2 separate regions of the Homo sapiens genome follow, and region 1 is linked to region 2. The links come from fine-mapping of genetic effects on gene expression. A gene starts in region 2. The other region holds a variant in brackets. All regions are shown on one strand. Distances are between the middles of the regions.

Region 1 (8,311 bases), 38 kb before region 2:
CCTGGGGGTTCTGGGAACCTCAGGCCCAAAGTAGTTATAATGGGACTTAGGAGATCATTATCTCAGCTCACCTGTAACCTATACTTTGGCATATTGATTGAAAGGCTCTGGGTTATTAAAAAAAAAAGGTGACAGAGTTAAAAATAACAGTAACAGTGACAAGCAAGATAGAAATATATTTCTCTTTCATGCAGCACAGCTCTGCTCCACAAAGCCTTCAAGGCTGATTGATAGGTGCTCTGTGGTATAAGAGACTAAGTCTCTAGGGTATTATCATTATCCAGGTGGTCCGGGATGACTCACCACCCCCAGATTTTAGTCAGTCGGAAGTGGGGAGATGGTATACCCTGCAAGTTGCTCAGTACCTCCATGCATGTCTGACTGGCCAGAACTTAATCTAAGCTTCAAGGGAGGTTGGGAAGTGTAGTCTTCATTCTGGGGAGCCATATACCAGCTAAAAGTCCCAGTATCTTAGAAGGGGACCAGTATGGGGACCATGAATACTTTCTGTGACAGACTTAATACTTTATTAATACCACTTATAACCAGATAATACTTTACTATTTATAAAACATTTGCTTTGCAAGCCAGGTCTACACTGCCTTCATAAAAAGTATTTCTAATACTATAAAACTTTGTTCATAAATCATTTTGCTTTTGAATTAACTAAGCAAACCAAACTAAGAAACCAAATTTGATTCTTTTGACAACATTAATCATGAATGTTCAGTAACTTTACAACCCTCCACTTGGATAGGGGAATTACTAGAAACAAATTATTATTGTAACTCTACAGCATTTTAGACTTTGCCTTACAAAATACTTTCAGGGATGTTTAAAAGTGTATAGCTGCCAGTTTATTTAAAAACGACTAGAATAATAGGTCCAACTTCACAAGGGTCATTGTACGAGGACCAAATTAGATAAACCATGCTTAGTATATCAGAAGACACATAGTAAGCACATGATAAATATTAGTTAGCATGATGATTAGTTCAATTTTTTTTTTTTTAATCTCATTTACGGGCCAGGCATGATGGCTCATGCCGGTAATCCCAGCACTTTGGGAGGCCAAGGTGGGTGGATCACTTGAGGTCAAGAGTTCGAGACTAACCTGGCTAACATGGTGAAATCCTGCTCTACTAAAAACACGAATATTAGTCGAGTGTGGGGGCATGAAGCTGTATTCCCAGCTACTCAGGGGACTGAGGCACGAGAATCACTTGAACCCAGGAGGAAGAGGTTTCAGTGAGCCTAGTTTGCACCACTGCACTCCAGCCTGGGCAACAGAGTGAGATACTGTTTCAAAAAAAAAAAAAATCTCATTTACGTTTTTTCTGAAGCGCGTCCTCTTGTGTTACATGGCAAGTCAGGCATCGGCACCGTGCGTATTTTGCAGCGTATATGCTCTACGTGGGGAGCTTTGTAAAAGTGTTTTCTGTTCTGGTACTTCTGTTAACAGCATCACAGCCACAGCTGCCAGTATTGGGGCAGCTGGAATTCCTCAGGCGGGCCTGGTCACTATGGTCATTGTGCTGACATCTGTCGGCCTGCCCACTGACGACATCACGCTCATCATCGCGGTGGACTGGTTCCTGTGAGTATGCTTGGCCTGCATTCCAGCTCACTGTCACAGGGTCCCCCTCTGTCACTCTAGGGCACCAGGCAGCCTGGCACATCTACAGAAAGAACTCTGAGGAGAGGGGCCTCTCGGCCCATAGTTAAATTGTCCTTATTGTCTGACCCCTGGTCCTTATCTGGAGACCGAGCCCCAGATGCCATGTGCACTCACTCCCCTGTCAGCCTAAGGGGCACATCTGGCTGCCACACATCTCACTCCATAAAGCCATTCAGGAATTGGGAAACCCGCTGTCTGCAAAGGCAACATAAATCAGCAAGGCTGTTTCTGAGTTGCACAACATGACACCACAGCAGCTGGAACAAAGCTGCAGGCCCCACATGCCAGCTTAGGCCCTGCCTCTGTGTGCTTCCCATTCCAGTGGGAATGATTTTCCCATCCTAGCCCAATAGGGTGAGGCTGAGCTATGCCGACACTGGGAAGAGAGCTAGTGTCATTAAGTGGAATTGAGTTTCGGATCTAGGGAAAGTTACAAGAAATGTGCCCTCCACATTCTCAAACTCTAACCTCTACAGGCCCATCCCTTCGCCCCCTTCCCTCGCTCTTCCAGCTGGCATTCTCTGTGCCTTTTCTCTTAAAAATTTCCTTCCACTTTTGAAAATCTTTCCCCAGGATGCCCAAAGCAAAGCCTAGAACAGAGTACGTGTTGGAGTTAACACAACATATGTTCACTAGAACTGCAACATGAAAAGAGCTTGACAGTGTGCGTGAAACCCCAGACTGGGCGAGAGGATTCACTCCCCAGTTACTTGGACCTGTGTTTGTGTCCTGACCTTGTGTGAGACCGGGCAGATTACCCAACCACCCTAGTTTCTACCTCTGTAAAATGAGGGTGCCCGTGTCCTCTACCTCCTAGGGGTACTGCAAGATTCAGTGCAATGATGCCTAGAAAGCATGCAGCCTACTGTCTGGCCCACAGTCAGCATCAGTTAACATGAGCACTCTCATATAAAGCTACAGTTCTCCACAGTCTTTGATCTTTACACTTCAAAATTATTGAGAACTGAAACAGCATTTGATCTATATGGGTTGTATCTATTCATATTTATCATATTAGACACACTTATAAATTTCCACTTGTTAATTTATTACATGTTTTATTTAAAGGTGATAATAATTCATAAAATAAAATAATGGAATGAATTTATTATCATCTTTAAACAAAAAGGTTATATATGCTAACATAAATAGCATTTTTTTGCAAAAAACAACCATTTCGACCCCAAAATTTATTTTATTTATTTACTTGTTTTGAGATGGAGTTCCATTCCTGTTGCCCAGGCTAGAGTGCAATGGCACAGTCTTGGCTCACTGCAACCTCCGCCTCCTGGGTTCAAGTGATTCTCCTGCCTCAGCCTCCTGAGTAGCTGGGATTAGAGGCGCCCGCCACCACGCCTGGCTAATTTTTGTATTTTTAGTAGAGACGGGTTTCACCATGTTGGCCAGGCTGGTCTCGAACTCCTGACCTCAGGTGAACCACCTGCCTTGGCCTCCCAAAGTGCTGAGATTACAGGTGTGAGCCACGGTGCCCGGCCTCGACCCCAATATTTAGTGAAAAGAATGGTACTATTTTATGTTTTGCAAGTTTTCTTAATGTCTGGCTTAATACAAGACAGTTGGAGTTTCCTGTTTCTGCAGTTTCACAACTGCTTCAG[T/G]GAGTTGTGACATCACACATCATGTAGTCTTTGCAAAACTCCACTATACATTCATGAGAAAATGAGACTGAGAGGGACAAATGACATCTTAGTATTATTATGAGAATGGCTTAAAGAGAAGGCTCGTTCCCCACTGTTGGGACTCTCACTTCAGTCAAACTAATAACTGAACATTCATCATCTATATGGCCTTATAACCTTTAATAGCTACTATTATGAATATTATGTGTCTATTACGTAATCTTGCAGTTGGTAGATACGGCGAACTGAATGTTAAGAGGTGCTTCGCTGGCCAGTTCCTAACGTAAGTTGAAAACTTGTGATGCTCACGGGAGCCTCGTTTTTCCCTCCTCCCCACCCTGCCTGCAGGGATCGCCTCCGGACCACCACCAACGTACTGGGAGACTCCCTGGGAGCTGGGATTGTGGAGCACTTGTCACGACATGAACTGAAGAACAGAGATGTTGAAATGGGTAACTCAGTGATTGAAGAGAATGAAATGAAGAAACCATATCAACTGATTGCACAGGACAATGAAACTGAGAAACCCATCGACAGTGAAACCAAGATGTAGACTAACATAAAGAAACACTTTCTTGAGCACCAGGTGTTAAAAACCATTATAAAATCTTTCCATCTCATTACAGCTCATTCGCTCCAGCAAGCCCGTCATCTTCCCTTTCCTCCCTTCTGATAAGACTGGAAAATAGTCCTCCAAAACACAAGGGAGGATTTTGGGTGGCCAAAGTGTACAATTTTCATCCCACAATTGAAATTTTTAAATCATTTCATGTTAGTCTTACCGAATAAGGTACCAAGATCACAAATAGTGTTGATCAGATCTTACAAGTTTATGTGGCACACAATCCTATAAATGTGATTTTTTTATATAAGTTAAAGAGACAAATAGTAGGCTAAAAACATTTTAAAATCAACTTTTGAAATTTAAAAATCTTTCAGAATACAATTCAGTTTTAGTTTCAAAATGTTAACAACTTGAATTACAACCGGTTATCAGTTGGACAGTAAGATTTTATCCCTTTCTCTTCTGACTGGTATACCTATTTCATTAGTAGCTAGGTGCACATATACATCTAGCACAGCTGTGAGGACAGACAGAAGGCAAAGTTTCCATGTGGCCTTGAGCAAGTCCCATCTCACCTCTAGGCCTCAGTGTCCTCATCTATAAAATGAGGGACTTCCCTAGAAGTCTTCATGGTCTCTTCCAGCCCAGACATCCTGTGATGTCATGAAAGCACCTGCCCTCTGTTTCCCCTCAGAACACCCTGTACCATCCATGGAGCACGAGGCCTTCAGAAAAGACACTTCAATGGGAGTGAACATTTCTAACTAAGGACAGGATGGCTGTGTGTGGTGGTCACCAGGTCCTGTGAGCAAAGTGCAGGTTATGCAAGTCGCCAGGCAGGAGGCCATTCCAGGAGTGGGATTATTCATCAAACTCTTTGCCCAGTTCATCCCAATGGGGGAAGTATTCCCTTCTTTCCTACTCTGGGAAGAATGTCTCCTGCCACTCCTCAACTGATGATAGACTTCGAAAACAGATGAGAAGACTAGCAGCTAGCAAGGGTGCTTGTGGTCACACTGTGGAACACTAAAGAGCTAGGAAAGAGTTGAGCACAGGCAACATTACAAACAAAGGATTTGAAAACACCAAGAGTACAGGTCTTCTTTAAGGAAGAATAAAAAAGAAGAGGTTCATTTTTCTGGCTTTTTTTTTCACCTGAAACACTTTTTCTCGAGTCCAAAATCATTCCCCCCGTGAAGTCTGCTTACCAAAACATAAGACGACTTATATATTTGAAAGAAGTCAAATGAATGAGCTCTCTAATAGAAGTCCATGAGTTGAGTGGGTATTTCTTATTTGAAAGTGTTTTTCTTTAATCAAAAGTCCTTAGAATGAGGGAAACAAAATATTTATTTGTTTTGGAATCCCACTTATCAAATCATTCAAAACTTTCAGCTGGAGTGGGGTTTGCTTTTGTTTTGTTTGTGTCCATAAGAGAAATGGTAGAAGATGAATCAGTATGAAGACACTGTCAATGAGGTTATGAGAAAAAAACAGCAGGGGCATTAGTTTCAGGCAAGGCAGCTCCCAGGTTTAGAGATTAATTTTTACCCCCTAAGGAATATCCAGTCAAAGACGCTGAGTGGGAGCTGTCAGGCAGTAGCAGCTGTGTTTGAGTTTCTGGCTGAAAATGGTGAAGAATGGACTTAATTATGCTAACAAACTGAAAAATCTAGACATAGATCCTCTGATATACAATTAGAGATATTTTTATATAGACCCCAAGCATTCTGTGCATAAAAGTTAACATTAGGCTGTGGTGCAGTAACCATTTAATGTCGAGGCTCTATTTCGGAAATACACTACAAATGTTAAAGTACGTGGCTGTCCTCTTAAGACACTAGTAGAGCAAAGACTTAATCATATCAACTTAATTCTGTTACACAATATGTGTTTTTTAATATACTAACCATTTCTTATGGAAAGGTCCTGTGGGGAGCCCATCCTCTCGCCAAGCCATCACAGGCTCTGCATACACATGCACTCAGTGTGGACTGGGAAGCATTACTTTGTAGATGTATTTTCAATAAAGAAAAAAATAGTTTTACATTAACATCTTTGCACGTTGTTGTTATTCTTCTCCTCAAAGAAAAATACATTTTCCATTCATGGAAATATTACAATAAGCTCAGGGCAGTCTCTGGAAGGATCCCATGCAGCAAGGTAAAATCTTGGCAGAGCCAGCCACAAGAAAATAAGTAAGGACATGCTCTCCTGCTCAACTCCAAGAACTGGAGCTGGAAACAGGAGGAGGTGAGCGGAGCACTTTGCTGTAGCAGGCCATACTTCCTTGTCCATGTCAGATTCAAATTTCTCAGATGAATTGAATCATTTCCATGTCGGGATTAGAAAAGTGTGATACCACCATGGGCCCTTCCGAAAAAGTAACTTCCTGTCTGACCTCCAAATTAGGTAGATTTATCTCTGTGATTATTACCACCATTTGTGAAAAGAGCTAACTAAGATCTCAAGGGATTTCCAGAAACAGCCATTGTGCTGGTGCTCTATTCATTAAGAACAGCTTACGGATGACTACTTTTCATCATGCTTTTTAGTAAAGAATTCGCAGGCAATATCATGAAATCTCCAGATTGAAGTAGTGTCTGGAGCCTATAATCTGACCCTCTCTACCAGCAGGTGGCAGCCACCTAGAGGAAAGGCTCTTAAGTTGGATCCATGGACCCCTAGGTCATCCACATGAGAGTTCAATAGGTTCATCGCCCTTGAAGTTGTGGGGAAAGTTTTGTGCATTTGCCTTTTTCTGGGGGTAAAATTCTTAATTTCAATCGGTTTCTCTAACAGATCTTACGACTAAAAAAAAAAAAAAATTTACAAATCGCTATGTTTGAACCATACACCCTAACTTTTGTGAAGGCATATGTGGTATTTACATGACCAGTTTGGGAAAAGAAAGGCTGCTCACAAACTGAGGGAACCAAGCCTGGCCACCCTGAGCAGATCAATATTTGCCCCCTGTGAAACGTTCTGGGAAGTGCCGCATAAAATCAATCCACTGCTAGGAAGTGCTCCCTTCTGCCGGGACCATTTTCTTCCCTTCTGCAGCCCACGCTGGGTTTTGGCCACCTCCACAATGCAGACATAAGAAGCAGGTCATCTGCCTGTGGGAGGTCTGTGGAAAGCCCCTTATGGTTAAGGGAAGTGCCTCTCAGCCAGAGTATGACAAAGAGGGTGGAGAAGCAGGCCTTAGATCCCAACATGTGGTAGTCACACATGTGCTCACAAATGGAACTATGAAAAATATGCAGGTTCACAGCTTTTTTTTTTTTTTTTAAGATACAGGGTCTCACTCTGTGATTATGGCTCACTGCAGCCTCGAACTCCTGGGCTCAAGCGATCCTCAGCCTCCCGAGTATCTAGGACCATAGGCTCACACCACCACGCCCAGGCTAATTTTTATTTTTATTTTTTGTAGAGACAGGATCTCGCTATGTTGCTCAGGCTGGTCTCAAACTCCTGGCCTCAAGCCATCCTTCTGCCTCAGCCTCCCAAAGTGCTGGGATTACAGGAGTGAGCCGCTGCACCCAGCCTCTGGCTGACATTTTTTAAAATGTTTCTTATAAGTTATTACATTTAACAAAATATTTAAATCCTACCCTCAGAAGTTAGGAGTCTATGTCCTCCTGTATCCACATTCATCCTGGTACCACCACTGTCCCTTCCCACCCAAGCAAAATTCTCCTTTTCAAGAGAAAAAATCTCACTTTACCTCACTATACCTATAAGTAAAGGCATAGAAAAAAAAGTAAAATCCTTGACTCATCTACACAGTGTTGAAAACAGAAGTGTGAGTTCTGTTAGCTGAACGGGCCTGGAGGAAGCGTGGCGGGAAGGCTGGATCCCCGCCGCAGGGGCTGCGGGGCTGTGGCTGCCTGCGGGCTGGGCAGGGCCGGGCGCACGCCCTCCTTCCGGGTGGCCGCGGGCCCCGACCCCAGGCTGCCGTCAGTCGAGCGGCCTCCGCAGCGGCCGCGCTTCCCCTTCTCCCACCCGGGTGGTCCCAGAACTGGAGCAACAATGGCCGGCTCTGTGTGGCCGCGTCCTGGGGCCAAAGCAGTCGGGACGTGTCACGCCGAGGGAGGGCTCCGAATGAATACGCTGACAATAAGAAGGAAGGGAGAGCGAGGGAGGTGATGGGCAGCGTCCTAGAGGGAAAGCGGGAGATGAGAAATCTACGAGATCCGCGAGGCGGCGTCCGGGGAGCGAGCCTCATAGTGGCCACCAGGGGGAATGCGGAGCTCACCTTGGGCCGCTTCCGCGGGGAGCTCTAAAGGGAGCTGGGGCACTTCCTCTTAGAGATCTCACTTGGGTAACATCGAATTCCAAGTCTGCAGTGCCGAGAGGGAGCAATCTGTGAAAGCCATCAAGTCAGGTTTAAAATTCCTCAGTGCCCCCATGTCACTTTTCCCTCTGTTC
Region 2 (8,336 bases):
AAGTTCACTGATGGACTATGAGAAGGAAATTGACCCAAAAATAGACTATGACAGTAAGTCACTGTAAACACATCATGCCTTCCAGCTATTTTCCACATCTGTGTTTGGCTCTCAGAAACTTCCCAGCAGGTACCCCATTTTGGTTCCAAAACCACGGTTATCCAATTTTACTCTGGAAGCAAGGAAGAGTTAACCTAATTTTCTAATTTCCATTGAGAATGTAGGAGAAATTTGGCTTCGTATAAAAGCTGTATGTTGTATAAATAATAATAACTCCTTATGTTTGCAAAGTAATTTATGGTTTCAAACATCATTTAAGGACAGTGTCTTATTTAAACTTTTCATTGTTGAAGATACCAAAATTATAATTTGGTATCTACTAAGGTAAACAGCAAGCCAAGATTTGATTACTTCCCCCAAGTAATTTCTGTCAAACACACAGAGGTCTTAAAAACCAAATCAGAAGAAATTCTTCAGCGAGGGCGTGAGAAACATGCAAATGCTGACTCACAGACAGTTTCGTGAGATACTTCTAATCTTCACATATATAGTTGACAGCAAAAAAAAAAAAAAAAAATCATGATTTGCCAAAATGAAAATTAGCTTCTCTGAGTCACTGTGTTTGAGTGTATAAATTTTGTTAATAAAAGTACCTGCTATGGATTTGGTTCTAGGAGACATATCATGTCTTAAATCACTTCCTGAATTTATGCAAATCCGCCTGCCAAAGAAAGGTTCACTCTCAGACATAATGCTTTTGACCACAAATAAAGTCTCTGCCATCTGTTTTCACACTAGGAAAATGCTATTTGGATTCAGTGATGAAATAAAAAATCCTATTCACATAAATCCAGGTCTTGTTCTCTTACCCTGGGATACCTCCTGCTAAAATTACAAGAAAAGGGACTTTGTTAATTAAAGTGATGAAGTATGAACATATGTTGTTCAAGAATAGCAATACCTCCACCTGCATCTCCAAATTATTAATATTCATATAGCCCTTGGTTTTTATTTGTTTATCGGAAATAAGAGCTCTTCATAACCAGGGCTTCAGATATCATCATTTTATCGGCACCAAAATACCTGAGGGAGGAGGTGTCTTTATTTTTATAGCTCCTTTTAGCTTTGTGCACCAAATACTTCAAGGATATTTATCACTGCTGAGTATCTTTTTGAAATAAGAAAACATAAGCAGATTAGGACACTAAAGAACTAGAGAAGGGAATTTAAGTTTGGGTAGACAAAAGAAATATTATCATGGTTGAGAAAGGTGGATTCTGGGTCCCTAAATCTCACCCCATTGATGACCTCTGCTCCAGGCACAGAGGAGGACATGACTTAAGGGAAAATGCATGGTCAGCACAGGCTGGAGTTTCAGTCCCAAACTTGTAGCCCCACCCTGGGGAGCTTGGGAGGCCCCCTTTTCCTCTGAGCACCAGAGCTAGAGTGAAGGCAGGTGGAATATCCTGTTACCTGGCTAATTACTCCCAGGCCCCACCATGTTCCTGATGGGCTCATCTTGCTATTTTCTCTCCAGAAGAGGAAGTATGAGGTTGTGTGAAAATGTGAGCATGTGTGTCCCCTAAGATACCTTTCCACGCTTCTTTCCCCTTGCCCCAGCCAAAAGGTCATCCAAGGAAGTTGGGGGATAATCAGGCCCAGAGGTGCCCTGGACCAGACGTCCCATGATCTAGCATACGCAAAGGAAGACGCTAAGAAAGTACACATGGAGAAGACGAGGGATACAGGGTGTTTCTTTCCAATCTCTCTGCTTCTTCCAGCAAAAGCCCCACCCTCTAGCCCTCAAGCCTGCTGGCCTCATGGAGTGTAACTAATCCACAGCAGCATCCCTCCTTCTGGGGACACAGTGTTGGGTAAGGAAGTGTAGGGGAGCCAGAGTCTTTGAAACCTTATCAGCCTAAAATCTCAGGGTTACACACAAGTCAGAGGCACTTTCTGTCACCCCTCCTTCTGACCCTGGTCCCACCATTCTCTCAGGTGGAACGCTCCCACCATGCTCTCCCCCTCTATGTCCCACATTAGTCCAAATGTTTCCTTCACGTCATCTCTCATGTCTATAGCTTTCCACATTCGCAGATTCCACCCTAATTCACATACCAAGATTATTACCAGAGACTCTGTTACTGGATTCCTTGACTTTCCCATCAATTATTCTATCTCTCTCCTTCCAAATGACTATCCCTAAGTATCATTGTCTTTGTGCCAAGCTTAGGTACCAACCTTCTGTAGTTCTCATAACCTACAGATTATGATGCAAGGAACTATTAATAGCACAGATTCTGGAGCCAGTCTCCTGGAGCTCCAATCCTGGTTCTGCCACTTATTAACTCTGTTACTTTAGGCAAGTTACTTAACCTCTCTGTGCTTCAGCGTCCACCTCCTAAAATAAGATAAGATAGTAAATACCCCATAGGATTGATCCGAGGATTAAACAAGTTAATACAGAAGTGTCTAAGCAACCAGGAACTGGTAGCTATTATCACTCTTGTTACCGAATGTGGTCCCAACTTCTCAGCCCGGCATCTATTGGTGCATACAGTCAGTACTCTGAAACTACACTCTTGAAATTGTAGATGCTATCCTAGGGGTCGCTAGTAGCTTCTAAAACAAATTAGAAGCCCACTTAAGGTGATAGTCATGGTGGCCAATGAGTCATTCTCTGCTCTCACAGAGTAAAGATTTAATTTGAACTAAGAACCTTAGAAGAAATACAGAAAGCGGGCGAGGAGAGGTGGTTTTTCCCCTCTGCTGTTCCTGGGGACACATGTGATGCTCTGAGAAGGCAGAAGGGAAGATTCGAGCTGATTATAATCTAATGAGGCTGCCAAATCAGTTTCACTTTCCAATACCACATAAGGACTGGTGAGTCTCATGGGCCCTGAGCCAGGATTATTTTAACTGGTAGCATTAGCTGGGTCAGACCGATCAGCCTCTATGGGGAATACTTTGGGAACTGTCATCTTCCAAGCCAGCGCAAGAACAGCCTCTGCCACTGAACTGATGGTGATACACACGGTATTTGGAGGGCAAATCTGATTCACATGCAGTAGCAGGAGATGGAAGAGTGGTTAAAATGAAAGGGAGAGGAGAAGAAGAGCAAGGGACGAGCATAATACAGGGAAAGAAGAATAATACAGGTAGAATAGGAATTACATAGAAGGGAGAAGATCATTTTTTAAAAAAAATAAGGGCCAGGCATGGCAGCCTATAATGGTAGGCAGCACTTTGGGAGGCCATGGCTGGAGGACAGCTTGAGGTCAGGAGTTTGAAATCAGCCTGGGCAACATAGCAAGACCCCCATCTTGACAAAAAATACAAAAGTTAGCCAGATGTGGTGGAACACACCTGTAGTCTCAGCTACTCAGGAGGCCGAGGCAGGAGGATCACTTGAGTCCAAGGGTTTGAGGCTGCAGTGAGCTATGATCATGCCACTGCACTCCAACCTGGGTGACAGAGACCTTGTCTCTAAAAAGTAAAGAAATGAAATAGAAAATAAAAACGAATGGTAGAAATAAAAGGAACTGAGTAGTAGGGGGCAGAGGCATGTCTAGGGGAGAGAACTAGAACTGCCAAGGGATTTGAGTGCCTGATGGATTCTGAAGACTGAAATATACATGACCCCAAAAAGCAATGTCATTTGTAAATATTTGTTAATGAGTTTAGTGAAGTGCTACATGGAGGAATGATCTAGCCAATGAGAACAATGTGCACCAGCCAGTTGGATTCTTGAAGCTGCAGAGACTTCATCTTCAGCCACAGCAGGTGGCTGAGGGCTAGAGTTACTTGGGACTTTCCCCAATGCTCTAGTTCCTTCTATCTCTTGGAAACAAGTCTGGCTCAATATGTTCAGCAGCCCCATTGATGTTGCCCAGAGGAAGTGTGGATCAGGGCTCGCTGACCCCAAGGTTAGCAGCAGAAGAGCAGGGCCTCTGCCTCCCCAGCCAGGAAGCCCACAGTCTTGGCCACATGAATGAAGGAGGTCTTGGCAGCATCTGACACACCTCGGGGTAATGATTTAGCCACCCCAAATTACCGTGTCTCCACAAAATAGTCACTTGGGGCCACACTACATTGTGGAGAGATAATGAAAGAGCTTCTATTTTTGAGCTATCTTTTCCTCATATGCGAATAATTTCACACACAAAAAAATGAGAAAACCACTTCTCTCTGTCACCTACAGAATCAGGAACAGGGATCAGATTATCTTTTAGATACCCGCCCCAAAAAGAAATAAAAATCAAGAAAACATGGGTAAATACCATGGTGGACATTTAAATGAAGCTGAGAAAGAAAGCTTTCTCTATTTAGAGAAGAATTCAAAATGGATGGCAGGAGATTTGTTGAAAATAAGGAAGAGGGAGGGAAAGGTTAGTAAATAATAGGTCAAATCTTCAGCCTAGAGGGCACTACTAAGTTTTCTTTTGTTCCCCCTTAGGTTTCCTGGTGTAGCAGTGCAGTTGCAACGTAGTTTTGTTTTTTGGGTTTCTTTAAACCTAGAGTGGTAAGAGGGACTTGGTGGCGATGGACTGCCATGGGTCGGTTCCTTAGAGGGCTCTTGAGTTTTTCCCACCTGTCTCCAACTCCAGGGCCACCACTCTAATAAAGCCACTGCCATCTCTGACCAGCTCCCCTGCTGTGGCTTTCACTCTTGCTCTCTTTACAGCCCATTCCACACAGCAGCAGCCAGCATGGCACTTCCCGTTCTGGGCCCCTCCCACTGACTGCACCCTGTGCTTGTCCTTCATAGTGTGTAAAGATCTGTATGTGGGGTGATTTGACTAACGGTTCTCTCCCCTTAAGTATAAGTAAACCTATGAGGGCAAGGACTGCTTACCTTAGCATCCTTGGTTCCTGGTAGGATGCCCATCCCATAACAGGCTGGAGCTCCTGGGTGTGTGGGAGGGAGTAGGAAGGAAGCAACAGCTGCCAATCAAAGGCCCATTTGGGCATGTGACCCTTAGCTAGCCAATCAGAATCCTTTCCAGGGTTGTAGCAGTTGAAGCTGTGAGCAGCTCAGTTGGTTGGGTTGTCTGTCTTGTCTTGGCTTGGATTCTCCCAGAAGGAGATCCTGAGTCAATGATTCGGGTGCAAGTAGATTTCTTCTGGGAGCCTTTCTTTAATAAAGCACTTGCACCTGAGTCATTGACTCAGGATCTATTTCAGGATCTCCTTCTTGAGGGAGAGGGCGAAACAGGATCCAGAAGAAGCAAAGCAATGGAGCAGGCATGGCATCAGGAAGAGGACAGGGAGGCTGCCGTAAGCCCAGCAGGCTCCCTTTCAGGCTGTTAAGGAGGGGGATGAGTACGAACATGAAGGTGGCCCAAGTAGCTCTAAGGTCCCTTCTCTCATCTCCTGTCCTTACCGGGGGCCGTAGGCTCTAGATAAAACGCTGCCCCACCACCCGCCAGGGCTTTTGTTTTGGCTCACCTTTCATCCGCCTTCTCAGACTCTGTCTGCCTTGGCTTCCCTCAGCTGAACCCAGGGAATTTGCATTTTGCTATTTTCCATCTGCACTGGGTAGCCTGGCTCCAGATGTTTGGGGCAGCAAATGCAGAAATTCCAGGCAAACGGATCTGATCATTCTCTGCTTGGCTCCACTCGCTGCATCCCAAGCACCAGATGCCTCACTGGTGTCTGCCTACCTTCCTGGGAGGCAGATCCACCGCTCATAAGATAGAGCCCAACGACAAGACCCTGTACTTATGGAGGCCTTTTATTTAACAACTCATTTCATTGAAGGAAAAATCTAGAATCTACTAAGACCTCCTGATATTTTTTAATTAACTAGAAATTGTGGATGTATCCCTCAATATTTTCATCTAAAGTGGTTGAAATGATAATGGAGGGGAAACTGTGTTTTAAAAGCGTGTTACTCCATTTCTTTCATTCACCTCCATCAATGATAATATGAGTTATCACTCTTAATATTAACCACGTGGCAGGCTTCATGCATTCTCACATACATTTCACCCTAAGGCCTGGAGAAGATAATTTCACCAAAGTCACACAGGTAGTACATGGAAAGGTGTAAATTTGAACCTGGATCTTACTGCAAACCCATACTCTTAACTGCTTCATTCAACTTTTGCCAGCAATCATTTGTCATAGACTAAATGCCAGAACCTAAGCCCAAGATTTTGCAGTATACAGAGGAGAAACTGGATGTCTTTTGAAATGCTTCAGAATGGTTTCTATAGTACATATCTGAGCAGCACTCCATGACCAAAGGATGCCAAATCCTTTGCCCCTTGTATTACACTTCATTCATTAGTTCATTCATTCATTCAACAAATGCTTATAAAGCACTCCTGTAAGGCATTATTCTAGGCACTGAGTGTTTGTTATTGAACAAAAAGGACAAAAAATACCTCACTATTCTCAGAGTTTACATTCAGGGATGCAAGAAGGAGCGTGAAACAGGAGATAGGCAATAAACATTAAAAAATTAAGAAAATTTTGTAATATGTTAAGAGGTGATCACTATGGAGAGAAAAAGCAAAGTAAGTGAAATCAGAAGTGCAATTTAAATTAGGGTGGTCAAGTCAGGACTCCCTACGAAGTTGACTTTTGAGCAGAGTGCAGGAGGTGAGGGAGTGAGGCATGTGGCTATCTTGAGGAAGAGTGGTCCAAGCAGAGAGAACAGCCAGTGCAAAGGCCCTGAGGCCCATCCAAGGAACAGTGATAAGACTGGTGTGGCTAGAAGTGAGGGTAATAAGAGACAATGACACAGAAGTAACAGTAGCCAAAAGGCCAGAAATAAGAGGCACTATTTTTATGTCTTGGTCTCTTGAAGGATCAGTAATGTGGTGGTTTCCCCAACACCTGCTAAGCCCTCAAGGTCTTTATATATGCACCATTTTCAGGATTCCAAATGAAAAGAACAGTATGGTCCCGATGGTACCAACGGAGTAGCTTCAGCTGCTCATAGAGCTATTCCTATCCCATTCACCCCACTCCAACACCCACACTCCTCAATTCAGTCTTTCAAGAAGCTGGGGTGACCAGAAACCAGAAGAGGCAAAATTTCCCACCCGTCAGGCCATCTGCAGCTGCCACCTCTGCATGCCTTTCTTCCCCACAGAGCCTGAGACCCTCATTCCTTCCCTGAGAAAGTGCCCTCCAGAGTCTACTTACCCTCCTAAGAACAGCGTATCAGTGAGTGAAAAAATTGGTTTCGCAAAATTTTTTTACAAAGTACTTTATCCAAGTAAGGGAGGCTGAATTTCCACTGAGAGCTAACGTCACTAGTCAGAACAGTAGCAAAATGTACCAAATCTTAGGGACAGGCTAGCACATAATGAGCAAATGAGTAAGAAATCAGGGGCCTTGGCCGGGGGCGGTGGCTCACACCTGTAATCCCAGCACTTTGGGAGGATGAGGCGGGCGGATCACGAGGTCAGGAGATCGAGACCATTCTGGCTAACACGGTGAAACCCCGTCTCTATTAAAAATACCAAAAAAAAATTAGCCGGGAGTGATGGAGGGCACCTGTAGTCCCAGCTATTCGGAGAGGCTGAGGCAGGAGAATGGCGTGAACCCGCGAGGCGGAGCTTGCAGTGAGCCGAAATCGCGCCACTGCAATCCAGCCTGGGCGACAGAGTGAGACTCTGTCTCAAAAAAAAAAAAAGTCAGGGGCCAAGGGCAATACCTAGTGAGGCGCAAGTTTGGGTTGGGTCTAGTGGTATGAGGGCAGTCTCCTTGGGAATCTGAACTTGTGCCAGAGGACGGGCTCCTGTTGTTTAAGGGCTCTGTACCAGGCTGGACAGATGTGGCTGTATGCAAATCTCACTGCCGTAAGTACAGGCCACCAGTGCCAACGTAGGGGGAAAGCAGAGCTTTGTTTCCCATGGCTTTGTAGAGTGATATTGCCACACGTCAGTGAAGAATCCTTATTCACACAAACACATTAGCCCCACTGCGACTCTCACTTGAGGGAACGTAACACAGCCCATCTCATCGTTTCTGTTTGAGATTCAAGCTGAACGTGAACGTGACCCAGCATTTGCAGTCGTCCACAGCAAGAAGTCAAGGTCTTTAACCGTGAGGTCAGAGACTCGAGGTTGAATCCCAGTTCTGCCACGGAGCAGCTGGATGGCAAGTTACCTTAAATTCTCAGAGTCCCCTTCTTGTAGAAAAATGTGGCTAAAATCATACCTCGAAGGATTGTCATGAAGATGAAACAGGCTGGCCCATAGCACCTACTCAGATAAGCCCTTTTGGAAGAACATCATTCAGAATAATCTGTGGGCTGCAGAATTAGATGGCACATTTGAGAAACTGAGGGAAAATATGGAAATGTCAATGATAATCTCCTC

The links. PIP is the estimated chance that this variant, and not a neighbour inherited with it, causes the effect.
Region 1: its variant is fine-mapped to the expression of SLC1A3-AS1 in lymphoblastoid cells after a statin (CAP, PIP 0.95). The same link has a PIP of 0.9 or more in lymphoblastoid cells.

What each region holds. Positions count from the first base shown.
Region 1 is chr5:36,682,402-36,690,712 of GRCh38, forward strand. It overlaps SLC1A3 (solute carrier family 1 member 3), which reads left to right. Exons shown (of 10, transcript NM_004172.5): 9 at 1,463-1,597; 10 at 3,664-5,933. The coding sequence ends at 3,868. The region is part of intron 1 of SLC1A3-AS1 (SLC1A3 antisense RNA 1); the gene reads right to left. Among named protein-coding and RNA genes, the nearest start is that of SLC1A3-AS1, 39 kb to the right of the region's middle. RefSeq lists an enhancer at 7,009-7,238 and a silencer at 7,694-7,893. The variant T/G (reference allele first, on the strand shown) is at 3,295.
Region 2 is chr5:36,720,259-36,728,594 of GRCh38, forward strand. SLC1A3-AS1 (SLC1A3 antisense RNA 1) reads right to left here and starts at 4,930. Exons shown (of 2, transcript XR_007058736.1): 1 at 4,856-4,930. RefSeq lists enhancers at 3,508-3,557, 3,568-3,617, 3,658-3,927.